Linked DNA regions of Homo sapiens: region 1 is linked to region 2. Evidence: fine-mapped expression QTL. A gene starts in region 2. The other region holds a variant in brackets. All regions are shown on one strand. Distances are between the middles of the regions.

Region 1 (5,368 bases), 45 kb before region 2:
ATCTGCTGACCTTCCCTCCACTATTGTCCTATGACCCTGCCAAATCCCCCTCTGCAAGAAACACCCAAGAATGATCAATAAAAAAAAAAGTGTTTTCCCTTTCCTACAACTTCCCCTGGGTAAGAATTCTGGTTGTATCGTCAGTGGTTGGGTTGATCTATGTAAGACCATCTGTTTGGGGCCATATTTGTCTCGATAAAGTGCCAAACTCTTTACAGCAAACTCTATGCCAATGAAAATCTCACAAAAAGGCATTTCCAGTCTTCAGCTATTGGCCCACACTGTAAGAAATAATCCACACAGCCCGATTGCTGCAAAAGACTGTCTCCTGCCACATCTTCCTGCCACAGGTGACTCTGGTGGCGATTTGGCCAGGAAGGAAGCTAAAGGGTCCTGCCACACGAGCTTCTCTTGTTGATGACAGATGTCTGCTGACAAAGGGTGCCTGCCCCAGGGTGCATCCCCAGCTGGGAGAGGGCCGGTACGTGCCATCTCAGAACGCAGCCCAGCAGAGGCATCCAGCCCTGGCACCTGGGCACTCTTGGAGGCCAACACAAAGTTCTCAACTCGGCGCCCTCCAGCCTGCAGCTGATCCCTGCAGAGTAAGCCTCAGGCTGACGGAGATAAAGTTTGCCTGGGCCCAAGTTCCAAACTCGGCCGTTTTGTTTCTGTTAAAATGCAATTGTTTTTCTCTGGAGTGTGTGGTGACTGCTCCGCGTCAGGAAGATGTATGAAAACCTCCACTTCAATTCGGCATCCCTTTTCTCCCAGACAAACACGGTCGGATTTTAATAAATCAAAGAGCCACACTGTTTAATAAAAATTTATTGACTTACAAGTGATTATTTATCAAAAGACCATTAATAGCAGGTACTGAAATGATGTGTTACTGGGTGGTGCTGGGAGACTAATAGGAAATCAATGCAGCTGGCCGGCCAGAATGCATATGAGAAGCCCACCCCCCGGCAGCCAGCGCAATCACCCCCGCAACACACGCCAGGTGCCACCCCTGGCGCAATGAAAAGTTCCCCCTTTTTATTTATCGTTTACAAATGAAATGATCAATACTTTTAATCTAGAGCAAAATTTATTAACTTTCCCATCGGAGAGAGACATATTGACTGGGGGAGAGAGTGGGGTGTGCGTGCTGTAGAAGATGGATGGCTGCGTGGCCATATCCTAACCTGTCCGCGAGGCAGTGCACCTGCAGCTGCCCTTCCAGCCTACGGACCGGGCCACCTGGGACAAGTGCACCTGGAGAAGCCGAGTCTGGCCACCCGGGATGCACAGCAGGCAGGTGGGACCTATGACATGGGGGGATCCTTCATGCATCAGGGGACACTAGCAAGCAATAGCCCAGAAAATCAAGTTCCTGGCCAATTCCAGGAAGGAAATGGCAGGATTCAGAGACCCAGATTTCCACAGGACAACAGGGTTAGTGCCCACTGTTTGCTGTGCCGTGAAGGTCACACGATGGCACCCAAAAATGCCTGTCACTGGTCTGGGAAGGGCATTTCAGGGATCTGGAGCACTCCCCCTGACCCCTCACACATCAAGCCTCTTCTCTGAAAGGCAGCACCAGGGACGGATTCTGACACGGTGAAGCATCAAGTCCCAAGGCTGGTTCTGCTGTCAAGGGAATCCCACTAGCTTTATTAAAAAGTTCCCTCTTGGCTGGGCGCAGTGGCTCACGCCTGTAATCCCAGAACTTTGGGAGGCCAAGGAGAGTGGATCACCTGAGGTCAGGAGTTGGAGACCAGCCTGACCAACATGGTGAAACCCAGTCTCTACTAAATACAAAAAATTAGCTGGGTGTGGTGGTGCATGCCTGTAATCTCAGCTACTTGGAGGCTGAGGCAGAAGAATCACTTGAACCCGGGAGGTAGAGGTTGCAGTGGAGCTGAGATTGTGCCATTGCACTCCAGCATGGGCAACAAGAGTGAAACTCCGTGTTTAAAAAAAAAAAAAAAGTTCCCTAACTGGTGGGTGGAAAGTCTCATGTTTGAGTAAAAAAGGCTGTCTGAGAACCACAATGAAGATACTGCCCAGCCTGAGAGCAGTATGGCCCCAGCCCCATGGCTGCCTAAAGCCCTTGAGGTCACCCTCAAGTGGGTTAGTTCCACTAGCCCTGATGTTTTAGAGAAGCAATGGATTCAAAGCTGACTTCCCGTATTTCCAAACCCAGAAGACTTCAGAGATCAAAGCCAAAGTTTGAACTATGGGCTTAAAAACAGAGAATTCAGAGGTGGACGAGGTCTCTGAGGTCATCTAGCCAAGTCCCTAGTTATGACTCAGGAGACGGATGCAGAGAAGTGAAGGTGCAGCAGGCTTGGAGGGGGGTTAGCAGCTGACCAGCACTTTCCACTCATTACACCACTGGGTGTCATTCCCAGCTCAGCCCCACCCTTGCTGGGGTAACAGGAGGGAACACATTATTTTGTACTTTGCATGTTTCTAAGTGTCTTGAGTTTTTGCCCCATAAGACCAACTCGGTTACCCCAAACCAGATACTCTGACTATGGGTCACTTGGGGCTTGCAGGACCCCTAATTTAAAAGGATGGAGCAGTCGCCTGGATGATGGTAAAAGGCATACACGGAAAGGGGAGGTTACGTTTCTGCAGGCGTGAATCAGTGCTCTCCTCACTGCCCGGCCCGCACAGGACTTCCCTCCACAGCACTGACTCCACGTGACTTCACACCAGGTGCGGCCACACCTGCCGGCAGGGGCCGCAGACAGCTGTGCTGAATGTGAGACAAAAGCAAAACCTGTGTGTGTGTGTATATATAAATACCTATGCAAATCACGAAAGTAACAAA[C/T]CATAAAGTTTCAGATGAACTTTTTAAAAGAGAACCTGATCTTTTAAGACCAATTACTGATCCCTCCAGTTGGTTTACAAACACTGTAAACATCACCTATAAAAGCTGAAAATCACTTTTTATTCTTAAGCATTTTGTAAAACAGTTCCTAAGAGACTTATTAGTCATAACACTGACTTTATTTTTTCAGTCTTCATTTGAGAGCAAAAAGATTTCCCCCGGGCTGGCAACAGGGCAGGTGAGGAAATGGGAGGCTCTCCCAGGGAGGTCACAGGTAGGTGCAGAGAAAAGGAGATTGCAGGGCCAACCCAGCAGGTACCACATGCAAAGTGGATCTGTCTGCAGCCCCAGGAGCACAGCTTCACTCCCACCCACTCCCTGAACTGCAGGCCAGAGGGCGACCTTGGGGACGTGACACTCAGCACCACAGGCACAAAATCCTGAGAGGCATCATGACTGTGCCACGAGGGAGCATGGGTCCCAAGTGAGGGCTGGTGGGGCATGAATGGGGAGCTGAGGAGCATGAAACTGGTGAAACCCCAGAACCCACAGGGGCTGCTTGGCCTTGGCTCTGCCTCCACTGTGACTGTACAGCAGGCACCAGTGGCCGACTCTTTTCCTGTGGTGCCTGCTCTGGCTGTGCAGAAGCTGCCATGCAGCACATGCCCTGCCCACCCTGCCCCTCTGCAGCCCTCCCCTGTCCCTCCCCTGCAGAAGCCACCATGCAGCACAGGCCCTGCCCCGCCCCGGCCCCTCTGCAGCCCTCCCCGGGCCCTTGCTCCTCCCCCACCCTGGAGTTTACTCATTGCTTCCCCTAGGCCTCACATCAGCGACCCGCACACACCCCGTCTCTGGAGAAATCCACGTCTGTGCTGGAAATTCTAAATTAACCAAAGATCTGCAAGCATCTGAGACGAGCTGTTCACCTTCTGAGCTGCAGGGTTCCTCGCTCCAGCAGTCAGTTGGCTTCTCCGCAGCCCCAGGGCCATGCTCCCAGAAGAGAACGGGAATCCTCACGAGAAGCCTGCTACTCAGGGCCACAGCCAGGGGAGAAAGTAAAGGGAGAAGTCCCCCAGTTCATTCACCAGCCAGTTTTATTTACTCACAAGAACAAATCCAAAGCCCAGTGCAGCAGCTCTGAGCTCAGGCCTGCCGTGCCCCGTTTTGTGGGCCTGTACTTGAAACACTGAACGTGATGTGTCCTTCACTCACCCGCAGCACTTTAATCCCCACAACAGCCCTGTGAGGTAGGAATCACCACCATTCCCCCCGACTCATATTACAGATGGGGAAACCGAGACACACATTCAACAAAGCGCGCATCACATGGGGAGTTCAGGGTTAGCCTGGAGTACGAACACACGTTCTCCCCATGGCCCAGTCAGCGGCCCACCTGGCCTCTTCCCCTCCCTTTAGTAACCCCATCAGCAGCAGCATAAAAATCTAACCCTTCATTTTGCTGAAAGCCCCTGCAGATGACAGTTTCCTTCCTATCATGTCTGCAGAGCTCCAAGGCTGGGGGCGATGTTGAGGCCGAAGCCAGCCACAGTGCCTCAGCTGTGCCTTTCCTGGAGAGCGGGTGGCCGCCCCCAGCACATCCCTGGCACACGGGCTTGCATAACAGACTCTTGTACCGCCATCTCTAGCACAAGACCATGGCCACATCTCCCCAACCACTCAGCCCGCACAGCGTGCAAAGGTGGGGAGTTCACTTTAATGGCATTCCTCCAACGACTTATTGTAAAAGAAACAAGGCATCTCGTCCTGGGTCGCAACACCCAGCAGCATCCGTTTAGACCACCAAGGGTAGGCTGCGCCGGGTGCACAGGGATCCCGCTGCGGCTCGGCGAAAGCCGGAGTCCTGGGATCCAGAGCAGCCCGGGGAGCCCTGGAGTCTGGAAAGGACACAGCAGTGGGGGCGGCGGCGGCAACTCCAGCTCTGAGCCCGTTGGCACCCCGCACGGTGGCCCCAGCCAGCTGGAGGCAGGCTCAGGAGCGGCTCCTGTCCTTGTGGTTCCCCACGATCATCTTGCTGTACAGCTTCTGCTGCTCCTCCTTGAACGTGTCCTTCACCTTCTCCCTCTTCAGGCCCCCATCCCTGGAGAGACAAAGGCTGGATGTAGTAACAGCCAAGAGGGCTCCCAGCCACGCTCACACCATGGGAGATGCACCATGCTGCCCAAACACCAAGAAAAACCTGCCAGAAACAGGGTACCCCGTGGCACTCTCACCAAGACAACCTCAGGGGATTTGGGGCTCCGGGATCCCAATATCCACCCTTTCTATCTCAAAAGGTCTACCCTTGCCCTTGGGTGAGAATTTACTACTCACATTCAAGGTACTTGATAACTGCTTAAACCTACCAAGGAGTTTACAATTCTTTCTACTCTAACATTCATCTTCACCTCACAAAGGAAAAGGAGGAATTCTGGCATTATGGAAGGTAGACATGCTTTAAGAAATATCGACTCATAACGTATCTGTAAAATCTATCTGTAAAATGTCATTTGTTTAATTCAGACCCAGGGATACTCTGAACTCATGCAGAGA
Region 2 (5,368 bases):
CATGTTTAACCAGGGCCAAATCATCTCCAGATAGCTTAGAGAGTTTTGTTTTGTTTTTAATAAAAGCTAACTTGTGGTGACAAGCACACACAAGAAAAGTGGGTTTTTCTTTAGCAGAAACCACTTAGCAAGTTAGGCTAGCCTCTGAAGAGCCTAGCCACAACACTCCTCACACCAAACACAAAATAGACACACAACAGTTGCCTCCTCCTCCCTCCTCTATCTTTAGGGGTAATGATTTACCATGACACTCAAATGCTGTTATTGCAGTGGTACTTCCATAAACTGGACATGCATAACAACTATTGTATTTAGGTCACAAACTCACAAAAGAAAAGTCCATCCTGAAAGTAAGTTGACAACTATGTCATCATATAAATAACCTAAACTTCCATGAAAACTCAAAGACCCCTAACATGAGGACTTGCTTGTTCCCAGCATTCCTTGGAGAGGCAGAATATCCCCATTTTAAGGGTAGGAAAATTGAGGAATAAGTACTGAATTTACCAGTCTTTGTTGAGATAAGGAAATGTAATAGCATAAATTTTGCTAGGAAATGCATATTATGGTTTTGTAAGAAAGTCTAACCCATGGTCCAAGAAGCCCAGATTCTTACCTATTAATGGCATGAAAGGCTTTCTGAGATGATGCTATTGTTCTCTCAGAAAAAGAAGAGTAACACTCTTAAGTCATTCTGGTTTCCCTTAGTAACTCTTTCTTAAATAGCCGTGAATGTTATCTACACCGTTTATAGCTTGTTCTTCTTCTCAAACTGGTATACCACTTCTAAGGTCAGAATTTTATCATGTTCCCTAAAAACTATTATCAGAACTTCTCGTCTGCCCCAAATTGATTTTTAAGAAATAATTTAAGGCATTTCTTAAAATTCTGAAATTTGGTGGAAAAGCTCATGTTCGCCTATCCAAATCCTTCATGAATGTAAGCGTCTTCATCCACAGCCTTCCTACACCATTTCTCTTTCCTGAAGGCAAGTAGTATGGGTCAGTGGAACCGCAGCCTCGAGGCAGAGGCGAGATTTCAGCCTCTTAAGACCTGCAGCTCTGGACAAGTCACTGAACTTCTCTGGACCTCCAAGGGCTCAGAAAAAAATGAAAACATTGAACAGGACGTTCCGAATGTTCTCATCCAGATCTGAAACACTTTTTTTCTTTTCTTTTTTTTTTTGACACGAGTCTCGCTCTGTCGCCCAGGCTGGAGTGCAGCGGCGCAATCTTGGCTCACTGCAACCTCTGCCTCCTGGGTTCAAGCGATTCTCCGGCCTCAGCCTCCCGAGTAGCTGGGAATACAAGTACTTGCCACCACGTCCGGCTAATTTTTGTATTTTTAGTATATGCAGGGTTTCACCATGTTGGCCAGGCTGGTCTTGAACTCCTGACTTTAGGTGATCCGCCCGCCTCGGCCTCCCAAAGTGCTGGGATTACCGGCGTGAGTCACCACGCCCGGCCATACTTTTTCTTTTAACCTGTTCTATCATGTTAAGATACCTTTTGCTGTGCTCTTTCTTCAACTCTACTGTGTTTCTTAGCTGAAGACCTCATGAGTAGGCTGTGTTCCAAAACAAAAAGCACCTTATGACTTGGTATGGTGGTTTTCATTATGGAACTGAAGCTACTTTTGACAGACTCATCTTGCATCAAGTTCTCCCTGAGACATACGGGAGGGGAAATGGGTGGGGTGTGTATGGCACAGGAATAGCCACAGTTAAGTGGCTGAGGAGGCCAGAACAAGTACATGCTGGTTCCCTATTCCATCTATTTCCCTGTGTCTGAAATTCTCCAAAATACAAAGTTAAAAAAGAAAAGAAAAGCACATCTCTTTCAAAGAGAGAAGTATATTTGATTGGCATTATTACAGGATTTTGTCTGGAGACTTTGGTATGGTATAACTGCTCTTCACACCATTTCCCTTGGATTGAGATAGAATCTACAAGACATGAAACTAAGGAGAGCTCCTCAAAGTTCAGCCAAAATTAAGGAAAATGAACCAAAAACAAAATTCCTCAAATGACCTCAAGGTTATCCATGAGAAGATCCATGGTAATACTTGGCAGAGGATGGAACTTATTTCCATCGTGCTACACCGTATGTCTCCTATAAGCTATTTTCTGCAACTTCTGAACAGCTAAACTTCAGCCCTCTGTGACATGGAAAGCGAGGAAATAAACAAGCCCCACTGGGAGAAGGATGCCTCAGAGGGTGCTGAAATAAAAAAGGAAAGGCAAGGGATTTCAGGAGTTAAGAAATCCTAAAGAAAAATGGGAGCATGCATTTGGAGAAGGAGAGGGTAAAGACATGCATCTTACGGCAGCCAGAGAACACAGGAAGGGGAATGACAGGGGAAGGCGCTTCCTGGTGCTCCAACGCCCAGCAGCCCTCGCCACCCACATCCCCGGACTCCCGGGGCGGGAGGGCTGCGCACACCTGGGACTTGGGGGAGGCGAGGGGCTCCGAGGAGCCGGGCTCGGAGAGCAGGCGAGCGGAGAGGCGGGCGGCCGGGGTTCGGGGCGGGCGCGGACCGTTCCATCCCGGACGGGGGGCACCCGCTCCACCCGCCGGGGATCCCCGGGGCGCGGCGATGGTGCCTCCTGACGCCGGCGCAGCGTCGCCGGGGCGTCCCAGACCGCAGGCCCCGCGCGGCCGCCCAAGCCCGGCTCCCACGTCCCGCTCTCGGCTCCCCGGAGGTCGGAGACTTTGAGGTAAGGGGCCAGCTCCCTCCTACTCACCGACCGCGAGGCTAGGCAGCTCCAAATCCCGCGGCGACCGCTCCCTCCCGCCCTTGCCGCCGCCGCGGGCCCAAGCTGCGTCAGGACGTGCGCGCGCCCGCCTTTGTCTGCGCCGCCCAACGTGACCCTGCGCCCACCGCCCCGCACGCTCCCGTCGGGCGCGCGCGGGCCGGCAGGGCGGGGGCCTAGGGAGAGGCGGGTGCCGCGTGGACCGGTCGCGGGTTGGGCGACCCGCGGAGTCGCCCTCTGGCGGACTAGGGGGCACTGCCGGGGGCGGGGCGGGGCAGGAGCAGGAGAGGCCGGGCCCTGGCTGTCCCTCCGCTGGCGCGTCCCTCTCAGAAAGCGGAGCGCTTCCCTGCGTTAGGACCCGATACTGGCTCCCTCCCCGGAGGTTCGCTTGTGTGTTCCGGAGAGGGTGAAATCAGGCTGGCACCGCGGGAAGAGGCTAGAGTCACTAAATCACCTTGTCCTCTTGAGGCTGCTGTCCGTATGCAGCGACATTCTGCCCGTTAGAGGACTCAGCTCAGGGCCTGGTACGCTCAAGATCTGTTAGCTACCAGCACCATCACCACGACCACCGTCATCACCAGCAGTATCCCTCAGCCTCGTCTACCTTGCTCGTCAAGCAGGGTGCTCCAGGAGTGGGTGTAGGCCACTTTCGCCCTGCCTGGCAGATGCAACTTTCCAACTTCCACCTCCACTTGGACCTGCTCTCTCTACTCAAGTCTAGCTGGTGGCTGCTGGAGTTTGCGTGTGTGTTTCTTACTATATCTTCTGACTTCGGACGCCTAACCCAAGCTTATTATCTCCCCTAAAATGGGACCTCCTTAAAATATATATTACCTTTCTTTTTCCTGTTCTTAAAAGACAGTTTGCCTTTAGTGCCAAGCCCTCTCCGCCGGTTTACGCTGTACACGGCTGTCAGATTGTCATTCCGTGCTAAATGCATAATCTGATAATGAAATCTTTAAAGTCCACATTCTTAGACCTCAAAATCTCTGTAAGAATAAAGGGCAGAGTATGGTAGTTCACGCCAGTAATCCCAGCGTTTTGGGAGGCCAAAGCAGGAGGATCGCTTGAGGCCAGGAGTTTGAGACTAGCCGGGGCAACGTAACGAGACCCCCACTTCTACAAAAATTTTGAAAATTAAAAAAAAATGGTGGGGGGAGCGGGGCGCGGGTAGCTCACGCCTGTAATCCCAGCACTTTGGGAGGCAGAGGCGGACAGATCACTTAAGGCCAGGAGTTTGAGACCAGCCTGGCCAACATGGTGAAACCCCGTCTCTACTAAAAATACAAAATTTAGCCGGGGGTGATGGCACGCACCTGTAATCCCAGCTACTCGGGAGGCTGAGACAGGAGAATTGCATGAACCCAGGAGGCAGATGTTGCAGTGAACTGAGATTGTGGCACTATACTCCAGCCTGTGTGACAGAGCGAGACCCAAACTCAAAAAAAAAAAAAAAAAAAAGAATAACCACTTAGCTCCAAAACACTGGACTACTTATCTCCACCAAATATAACTAAATGTTACCCATTTGGAACTGATCACGTATTTATTAACTCAATCACTTATCCATTCATTGAGCCCTTGTTACTCGCCCAGCTTTTTTGGGGATCCCAATTCAAGATTGAGTAATGCATGGCCACGTCTAATCGTCAACGACATTAAATTCCATAAGAGAAGAAACCACCGGGCGCGGTGGCTCACCCCTGTAATCCCAGCACTTTGGGAGGCTGAGGCGGGGGAATCACGAGGTCAGGCATTCGAGACCAGCCTGACCAACATGGTGAAACCCCGTCTCTCCGTCTCTACTAAAAATACAAAAATTAGCCGGGCGTGGTGGTGCGCACCTGTAATCCCAGCTATTCGGGAGGCTGAGGCAGGAGACTTGCTTGAACCCAGGAGGCGGAGGTTGCAGTGAGTTGAGATCGCACCACTACACTCCAGCCTGGGCGACAGAGGGAGACTCCATCTCAGAAAAAAAAAAAAAAAAGAAGAAGAAACCAGACATCATACATTTTTGTGTTGTGTTCTCCACAGTGCTAGGGATAGGGATTTAAAGTGGCCACCAGGATCTCAACTGCTCTTTGGAGTCCTTCGTCTGGTCTCCTTTTCTGCCCCCAGAACCAGTCTTGGAAGTAGCCCACTCATCTGCTGTACTCTCTTTGTGTTCTCATGGTTATATTTTCTCACAATTCTTACCATCTACTAGTTCTTTGTACATAATATTGAAATCTTAAAATATTTCACACATATTAGAGGCTCAAGAGAAAATGGTGTTCTTTGCCCAAGCAAATAGTAGGCTCAATTGTTGGGTATTAACACTGATACACACACACACCTTGTGAGTGTGCACATTCACTGGCACATTCTCTAAACTTCTCAAGTGCAGGAAGGCAATCAAACTTCCCTCTGAGTGGGAAGCCAACATGAACTAGGTAAATATAGTTCCTGTAGGCACCAAAACTTTTATCACATTCATTTCTAGGTACAAGGAATGTAAATGGGCAGATGAAACAAGCAAGTCATGCTTGAAATGCTTGACACAAAGCAGACTTATCTTTAGAGAAGGCCTCCTGCCCATAGCATGACCGAGCTATAGCCAACACTGAACTTCTTGTC

What was found. PIP is the estimated chance that this variant, and not a neighbour inherited with it, causes the effect. A credible set is the group of variants that fine-mapping cannot tell apart.
Region 1: its variant is the best candidate, but not a certain one, in a credible set for the expression of GPAT4 in whole blood (INTERVAL, PIP 0.73).

Annotation. Positions count from the first base shown.
Region 1 is chr8:41,620,441-41,625,808 of GRCh38, reverse strand. It overlaps GPAT4 (glycerol-3-phosphate acyltransferase 4), which reads right to left. Exons shown (of 13, transcript NM_178819.4): 13 at 808-4,916. The coding sequence ends at 4,808. Among named protein-coding and RNA genes, the nearest start is that of NKX6-3, 28 kb to the left of the region's middle. RefSeq lists an enhancer at 2,709-2,808. The variant C/T (reference allele first, on the strand shown) is at 2,819.
Region 2 is chr8:41,575,654-41,581,021 of GRCh38, reverse strand. GPAT4 (glycerol-3-phosphate acyltransferase 4) reads right to left here and starts at 2,822. Exons shown (of 13, transcript NM_178819.4): 1 at 2,744-2,822. GPAT4-AS1 (GPAT4 and GINS4 antisense RNA 1) reads left to right here and starts at 2,654. Exons shown (of 3, transcript NR_125824.1): 1 at 2,654-2,716. RefSeq lists silencers at 2,316-2,455, 2,476-3,095.